2 linked regions of the Homo sapiens genome follow. The protein of the gene in region 2 interacts with the protein of the main gene of each other region in a pairwise test. Each region holds a gene or a part of one and is shown on either strand. Other genes may lie near its edges. The genes, in order: BDKRB2 and CD82.

Evidence for each region.
Region 1: the proteins of CD82 (region 2) and BDKRB2 interact in a two-hybrid assay, tested with the Homo sapiens proteins (one large-scale study listed by BioGRID and IntAct).

Annotation. Positions count from the first base shown.
Region 1 is NC_000014.9:96,235,752-96,239,563, forward strand, and holds part of BDKRB2 (B2 bradykinin receptor), read left to right. Parts: intron 1-1,317; 5' UTR 1,318-1,356; coding exon 1,357-1,430; intron 1,431-3,812. UniProt on the Homo sapiens protein: Receptor for bradykinin. It is associated with G proteins that activate a phosphatidylinositol-calcium second messenger system.
Region 2 is NC_000011.10:44,614,070-44,617,881, forward strand, and holds part of CD82 (CD82 antigen), read left to right. Parts: intron 1-1,202; coding exon 1,203-1,304; intron 1,305-3,812. UniProt on the Homo sapiens protein: Structural component of specialized membrane microdomains known as tetraspanin-enriched microdomains (TERMs), which act as platforms for receptor clustering and signaling.

The sequences.
Region 1 (3,812 bases), on a different chromosome or scaffold from region 2:
GCTGGGATGTGGCAGATCCGTGGCTACATTCATGCACACACACACACCCACATACCCACACATGCACACACACACACACACCTGCACTCACACACTTGCACATGCATAGACCACAGCTTTCCACACCCTTCCTAGACAGGGGTCACTTGGTGTCCTGGAGAGAGTGTGAAGTCTGGAAGGGAAAGAGGGGGGATTAAGCCCCACCTCTAGCCATGGGACTGAGACAAGTCACCCCCACCCATCTGCGCCTTGTTTCCTCCTCTGTGAGGCAAGCACAGAGCCCATGCCTCCCTCCCTGGATGGGAGTGATGTGAAACTTGAAGAGGGGTAGAGACAAGGGTCGTCAATGGAAGCCCCTTGGGCAAAAAGGCCCTTTCAACTAGGGGCACAGAGGAGGCCCTGGGCTGAGAACTTGACAGCACCTTGTATTGGTAACCAGCCGGAGGGACTGGAAATACTCAGATGTGTCTGTCTCCCTTATTAGGTTCAAAGTCCCTCGAGACCCTGTCTCCATCACAGTGCTCCAGTCCAGACCCCTCCTCTGAGCTCCAGACCCTGCTGGACCCAACAGCCATCCCCATCCCCACCTGCCTGGAATTCTCCAAAGAACCTCCCCTTTAACAGTTCCAGCCTTTAACAGTTCCAGTCTAAACACATGACCTTTCTCCTCTAAATCAGCCCCCCATCTCTGCCTTTGCAGGAGATGGAAGCCATGACACCTGCCTCGCCCCTGTCCTCACCCCATCCATGTCCAATCAAGCACTAGGCATGTCAGGTTTACCCTCTAAACTCCTCTGGAATCCAGTCTCTCAGTCTCCATCATCCCAGGTCGAAGCTAATGGGCTAACTGGTCCTTGCTTCCACTCTACCCCCACTGCAGTCCTGACTTCCTGAGCAGCAGCCAGGGCCTAATCCATATTCACACCAAGCGCCTTCCTGACTGAGATATCCTCCTGCACCATCATCCCTCCACCCTGTTTAGTTCTGCTCACCCTCAGTGTTCTCATCAATAATCCACTCGCCCTCACAGGCGCGTTTGGGACCCCATGTTCTATGCTCTCACAGGACCTTTTGCTTGATTTTTCACTGTACTCAGGTCAGTTTGCAGTTATTAAGTGACTGAGCAATGTCTGGCTTCTCCAGTAGACTGTCAGCTCCTAGCCATTGTATCCCTAGCACCGCTGTGTGGGAGCACTTCACAAACGTCCATTGAGTCAGGGACTCAGCAGTCTCCATTTCTCCTCCCTGCTGGAGAATGCGTGTATTTTGCAATCCCCAGCCCCTGTGCCATCTAACCATCTTTTCTTCTCTGTTCAGCCCAGGTGTGGCCTCACTCACATCCCACTCTGAGTCCAAATGTTCTCTCCCTGGAAGATATCAATGTTTCTGTCTGTTCGTGAGGACTCCGTGCCCACCACGGCCTCTTTCAGGTGAGTCAAAGGGATTCCTCAGTTCACTAGTTAGGGGAGGTGGGCAGACACCCTGGAGAACTCCCTGGAAAGCTCAACTCTCATGCCCCGGACAACAGTTGAAGGAACCAGTGATGTTAAGCCCAAAGACAAAACCTCTCAGGTGTCCAAGTCCCTGTAGGCCTGTTGGGAGCAGAGGGAATGTTCTGCGGAACTAGAGGAAGAGGGGCTCAGGGAGAAGAAGGGCACATTCCTGGTTGTCATATGTGATCTATCCCAGATGAACTTGGAAGTGAAGGGAAGAGAGTTAAACATTAAAGTAAATACCCAGTGGATCAGACAGCAATGTGCCAGATTGCCTTGGAGACAAAATATCTCCAACACATGGCTGACATTTGGTGGGAGATCAGAACACCCTAAAGAGAGAATTTAAGGGGAGGGGGAGGAGGACCTGAGCCAGAGTAGAAGCAGAGGATAGGGAGATCTGTTCTTGGGGACAGCATTTGCAAGAAACAAGGCTGAGGGGTCCACTCCAACCTCTCCACCCTGCTGCAGGTGCTGCCTATGATGAAGATGAGCAGATGGCCATCTCAGCTGGGGCCACAGTGCACTGGACCTATAGTTTCCAATTCCGCACTCAGCAGGCATCTTTCTGATGATCCGATGGCTTCTCAGAGCCAGGGATGGGCCAGGATCCATCCCCTTGGCTACTGTCTTGCTGAGAAATTAATAAGCAGCATCTGGTGCTATACTTTGGTCTCTAGTGAGTTAGCTCATGAAAGATGACAGACTCTCCAAGCCAGGGGTATGCAGGAAATGGGTTTTCTGTAGCTACAGAAATGGGGTTGAGGGTTGGACCAAGGGGACTACCCAGGGGAAGTCTTACCTTCAGAGGACTCTGGAAAGGAGGCTGCAAGTTTTCATGGGTCAAGAATTCAGAGCCCAGTAGAGACAGCTTATCTCTGTTCCAAGATGTCTGGGGCCTTGGTTGGAAGATTCAAAGGCTAGGAAACCAGGAGCCACCAAAAGCGTAACTGGGGCCAGAGGATCCACTTTCAAGGTGGCAAGTTGGTTCCCCCCATGTGGCTGCTTGAGTATCCTCACATGGCGGCTCACATCCTTCCAAGTAAGCAATGCAAAAGGCCAAGAAAGATGCTGCAAAGCATGTTATGACCTAGCCTCAGAAATCACACACCATCCCTGCCACCATTAGTAAGAAGTCCAGCCCACGTCCAGGAGAAGAGGAAGCAGATTCCTCCTTTTGAAATGAAGAATATCAAGTAATTCGGGGGGCATATGAAAGCCACCACACACCACAGGGATCTTTTTAGAGCATACTTCTTATACCATCACTGTAGTTCCTTAAGACTCAGGGGCAAAGCCTCACTTCCTTAGCACCCAGTGAAGACCACGCTTACTCCCTCACTCAACCTCTTGCTACTTCCCACCTCTCCTGTCCAACATCTAGTGTCACTTTCCAGAACATACCAACAGCTTCCCCAGTTCTGTGCCTCTGCTCAGGCTGTTCCCCCTGCCTGGTCCACTTGTCCTCCTTCTTGTCCCGTCAAAATGCTTCTTATCCTTCAAGACCCAGCTCTAGAGTCACCTCCAACCCCTTACCCACCAGCCCCCTCTCCAAGTCTGTGTCCCACAACCCCCCTGCTCCCTCCAGGGCACCCTCCACCCTCTGGGCCACAGTTGTCAGGAGTCAGGCAGGGCAGGGGCCGGGTGGTGTCTTCTTTGTGTTCTTGCACTCAGGGCAGAGCTCAGCACAGAGCAGACGCTCAAAAAACATTTAAAGGATAGAAGCATTGATTTGTGGGTCCCCCAGTCTGGCTCCAGGATGCCAGCCAGCTGCTCCTAGAAGCAAACGGACTTTTCCTGGGAAATCCCAGAGGTGATGATCAGTATCTCTCCCGTGACTCGTAGTTCAGCTCTTCCTCCATGAGCCTGACTATCAGTGGACCTTCCAGAAAGAGCCCCTTTTCCTTCTCTCACCCACAGCACAGGGCACTGGGAAAATGCCCAATGAGTCCTGCCCTCTGGGTTGTGCTTTGGACTTTTCAGTGTGTCTTCGCATCCACTCTTCAGCTTGAATGTTGCAACAGCCATGAAAAAAGAAATGCAAAGCGATTCAGGATGAGAGCAATACCCTACTCCAAAGAAGGCAAAATAGAAGCTCAGAGAGGTCAAGCATTTTGCCCAAGACCACACAGCTAGGAGTGGAACTCATGGCTGTCCAAGCCCCACGCCTCTGCTGAAGGTAGAGATGAATTACAGCAACAAGTCTAGAAAGGTGCCTGCCCTATGGTCTGTGAGTCTTGCCTAAGAATGAAAGAGGAGCCAGTGGGTTAAAGATGAGGTCACCAACAAACGGTGGTGTTGGAGTTTACCACTGGTTAT
Region 2 (3,812 bases):
TGGTGCGATCTCGACTCACTGTAACCTCCATCTCCTGGGTTCAAGCAATTCTCCTGCCTCAGCCTCCTGAGTAGCTGGGATTACGGGCACCCACCACCATGACTACATAGAGGGAGGATCTTTTGACCATATAGTTGATACCGAAGTTCCAGGTCCCTCAGTCTTGGGGCCCCCTCCAGGCATCTACCCTGCTGTCTTGGGGGCCCTGTTTGGAGAGGCTGCACTCTGGTCCTTGGAAGAAGGAAACTGAGCTGGGCTTTCCTCCCTGTCCCTCCTTCTCCCTGAAGCTGCCCTGTGGGAGGTGTAAGGATTCACCAAGAAGTTGCATGGGTCTGGCTCTGGTGCCTGGCAGACCATGGTGGTTAGGTGTGCATTCAGCATTCACGTACCCCACACAACTATTCTGTGCCAGGCTTGGCGCTAGCCACGGGGGACCCTGTAGTGAGCGTGCCAGATGTGGTCCCTGCCCCCACGGAGCTGATGTGCTAGTGGAGAGAGATGATAAGCCCTGAAAACCAACAAGCATGTAACGTCAGTGCTCTAAAGAGAAATACAGCATGCTTTCCCTTGTGGGATAAGGGAGGCCGGGGAGGGGTGGTTGATTGGTTGGGGGAGAGGGGATGGGGAAGGGCTGATATTTTGTAGAGTGGTCTGGTAAGGCCTTTCTGAGGAGGTGACATTGGAGCAGAGCCCTGAAGGAAGCAGAGGGTGAGCCATGTTAATGTCTAGGGGAAGAGCATTCCAGGCGGTGGGAACAGCAGGTGCAAAGGCCCCAAGGCAGGAGTGTGCCTGGCACAAAGACAGCACAGAAATCTAGTCAGTTGAAGCAGAGGGAGGAAGAACAGAGGACAGAAGGCCTGGGGAGGCAGACAAGTGGTGTAGGACCTCCTAGGCTGTTATGGGGACAATGACGGTGGGAACTGCCCTGGAGGTGGGAGGCCCCTACGGGGTTTTCAGCAGTGACATGAGAATATTGATGTTTACAGGGCCAGGCTGCTGCCAAGCGCAGAAGAGATAGTGGGGCAGGAGTGGTTGGCACTGCCTGCATCGGGCACCCTGGGAGCGCCAGGAAAGTGGCTGGAGCCATGAGCGTGTCCCAGGGTTGCTGAGGGGAACGGGGGGAGGCAGTTTAAGTAGGGGTGACCACAGGTGGGCACGGGTTTCAGGAAATCTGACCCTGACCTTTGTCCTCCCCCCTGCAGCTGAAGCAGGAGATGGGCGGCATCGTGACTGAGCTCATTCGAGACTACAACAGCAGTCGCGAGGACAGCCTGCAGGATGCCTGGGACTACGTGCAGGCTCAGGTGAGGTGGGGCGGGGCTGCAGGAGGCTCTCTGGCCTGGGTGTCCCTGCATTTGGGGCTCTGTGCACCCACATGTCTGGGACTGGCATCTGCAGTGCTCGTGTGTGCCTGACAGTTTGTAGGAGAGTGTGCTTCTATGGGGGCAGGGCACCCCAGTTAGCACCACAACTCCCTGCTCAGGGGGCCCAGAGACTCAGAGGCAGCTTCACAGCTCTGTGCTCCCATTTGTGGCCAGAGAGCATGGGGGCAGTTGTCAGCCCTCTTATCTCAAGCTACACTGGGGAGCGTTGGGAGCTCCACTCTGGGTTTTAGGAAACTGGGAGCCAAGGCTGATATGCTGAGAAGTCCCAGTGAAGGCTGCCTCTGGGGAAGGGCACTAGCTGGGGAGGTGTTGGGGAGCCTTCTAGGGCAAAAGGAGTATTTTAGCCAAATCTTGATACTGGTTTCGCCAGTATGTGCACATACGTAAAAATGCACCAAGCTGAATGTGTGCCCATTAGTTCATGTGTATTATACCTCCATTAAAGTGAGAGAGATGGATGGATGGATGGGTGGACAGATGGACGGACGGACTGACCGACTGACCAACAGATAGACTGACCAGGTTCCCAGCCTGTCTCAATAGTGATCCAATGACCACCTGGCTCTCCTTTCTTGTGGTCCCGGATGCTGCATGTGCCCTTGGCTGGGACCTGACATCTCTGATCTGCAATCCTGTGAGGGCGCAGGACACAGTGGTCACTTAGGGCCTGTTGACACCTCAGGGGAGGGATGTGGAGTACAAAGGGCATGGGCAGCAGGAGAAAGCCTGACTCAGCGGCACCAGGAGAGTTTGCAGAGAGGACACTCCATCTAGGTGACATGGACATGGCCATTTTCTCAGTGGAGGAAGGGGAGAGCGATGTTTTCTGGCCCTGACCGAGGAGATCAGGTGTGGGGGTTGTGGCAGCTGGAAGGCTTGGTGCACACAAGGAAATGTTTTGGTCGCATATGTAGTTTGACCCACAATTGCTGAGACTTTGCTAATTTTAGCAAAGTCTGGATGTCACCAGTGACATAAACCAGTGCCACCTGACAAGGGACCTGGGAGGAGAAGTGGGTCCCTTGGGAGGTGGTAAGCATCCTACCCTGGAAAGTCATTGGCTGGTTCTAGATGATTCTGATGCTGTCAGATGCTGCTTAGGCCGGTGGTAAGTCAGACTCCCAAGGCCTGGAGTGCTAACACTGCCACAGCCGCTAGACCTTTGCTGAGCCTGCTTCCTCATCTATACAATGGGGCTACTGACCCATGCCGTGTGAGATACATTGTTAAAGCCTGAAGCACTTAGGCAGCATTTATTATGTGGTATGTTGGTGGTGATGTTTTAGTCACCATGCACATCCATGGAGACACAGGCGGAGGTGGCGTGTGCTGCTGGGGACCAGGTACAGCCGGAGTCAGGCCAAGGGGTTGCTTGGAAGGAGGCTCTGTCGTAGACGGGCCAAGGAGACCTGCCTCATTTTGCTCTGGTGTAGGATGGCCTGTGGGTGCCCCCAGCCTTGCAGACCTGTGCACCCCTCAGAGGTGCCAGCCTTTTCTTGGAGAGAGGAGGCAGCCCGGCTGCTGGAACAAGCACCTGTAAACCTGGATTAGAAACTGCCTGGAGCTGAGCATTTCTGAGTGTGCCTGGCACGCCCCCTGCTGGCCACTGGCTACTGGTCAGGCGACACCCCTCGGAGCTAGGAAGGAAGCGGTCCAGGAACTGACCCCTGCTGTGACCGTGGCTATCCCATTGAATCCTCCCAGGAACCCCCAGCATTGCGGGGATTCACACACAGAGACCTCCTTTAGCACACAGAGCCCGGAAAGGCTTTCTTCTCTCTAGAACTAGAGCATTTTCTCCTTTAAAATGGCAGAATTGACCAGCTAGCCAAGGTGGCTCACACCTGTAATCCCAGCACTTTGGGAGGCCGAGGCGGGCGGATCACTTGAGGTCAGGAGGTCAAGACCAGCCTGGCCAACATGGTGAAACCCCGTCTCTACTAAAAATACAAACATTAGCCGGGCGTGATGGCGAGTGCCTGTAATCCCAGCTACTCAGGAGGCTGAAGCAGGAGAATCGTTTGAACCCTGGAGGTGGAGGTTGCAGTGAGCCAAGATCACGCTGCTGCACTCCAGCCTGGGTGACTGAGCAAGACTCTGTCTCAGAAAAAAAAAAAAAAAAAAAAAAGGCGGAATTGACCCCGTCTCCTTTTTCACTTTTCACTTTTTTTCCTTTTCACCAGGAAGCTCAGAGGCAAATCTCAACTCCTGCACTAAAGTTGAACGGCCTTTCCTAAGCTTATTGTGCTCCCCACACCTATGCTTGGTACTTTGCCTGCCTCATCCCATTTAGTCCTTGTGATAGCCCTGTGAGTTGGGGATTTTAATTATCCCCATTTACAGATGAGGAAACTGAGGCTAGTTCCTTGATGGAGGTTGCTCAGCTGGTAGGCGGCAGGGCTGGGATTGTAACCCAGTAGCCTGACT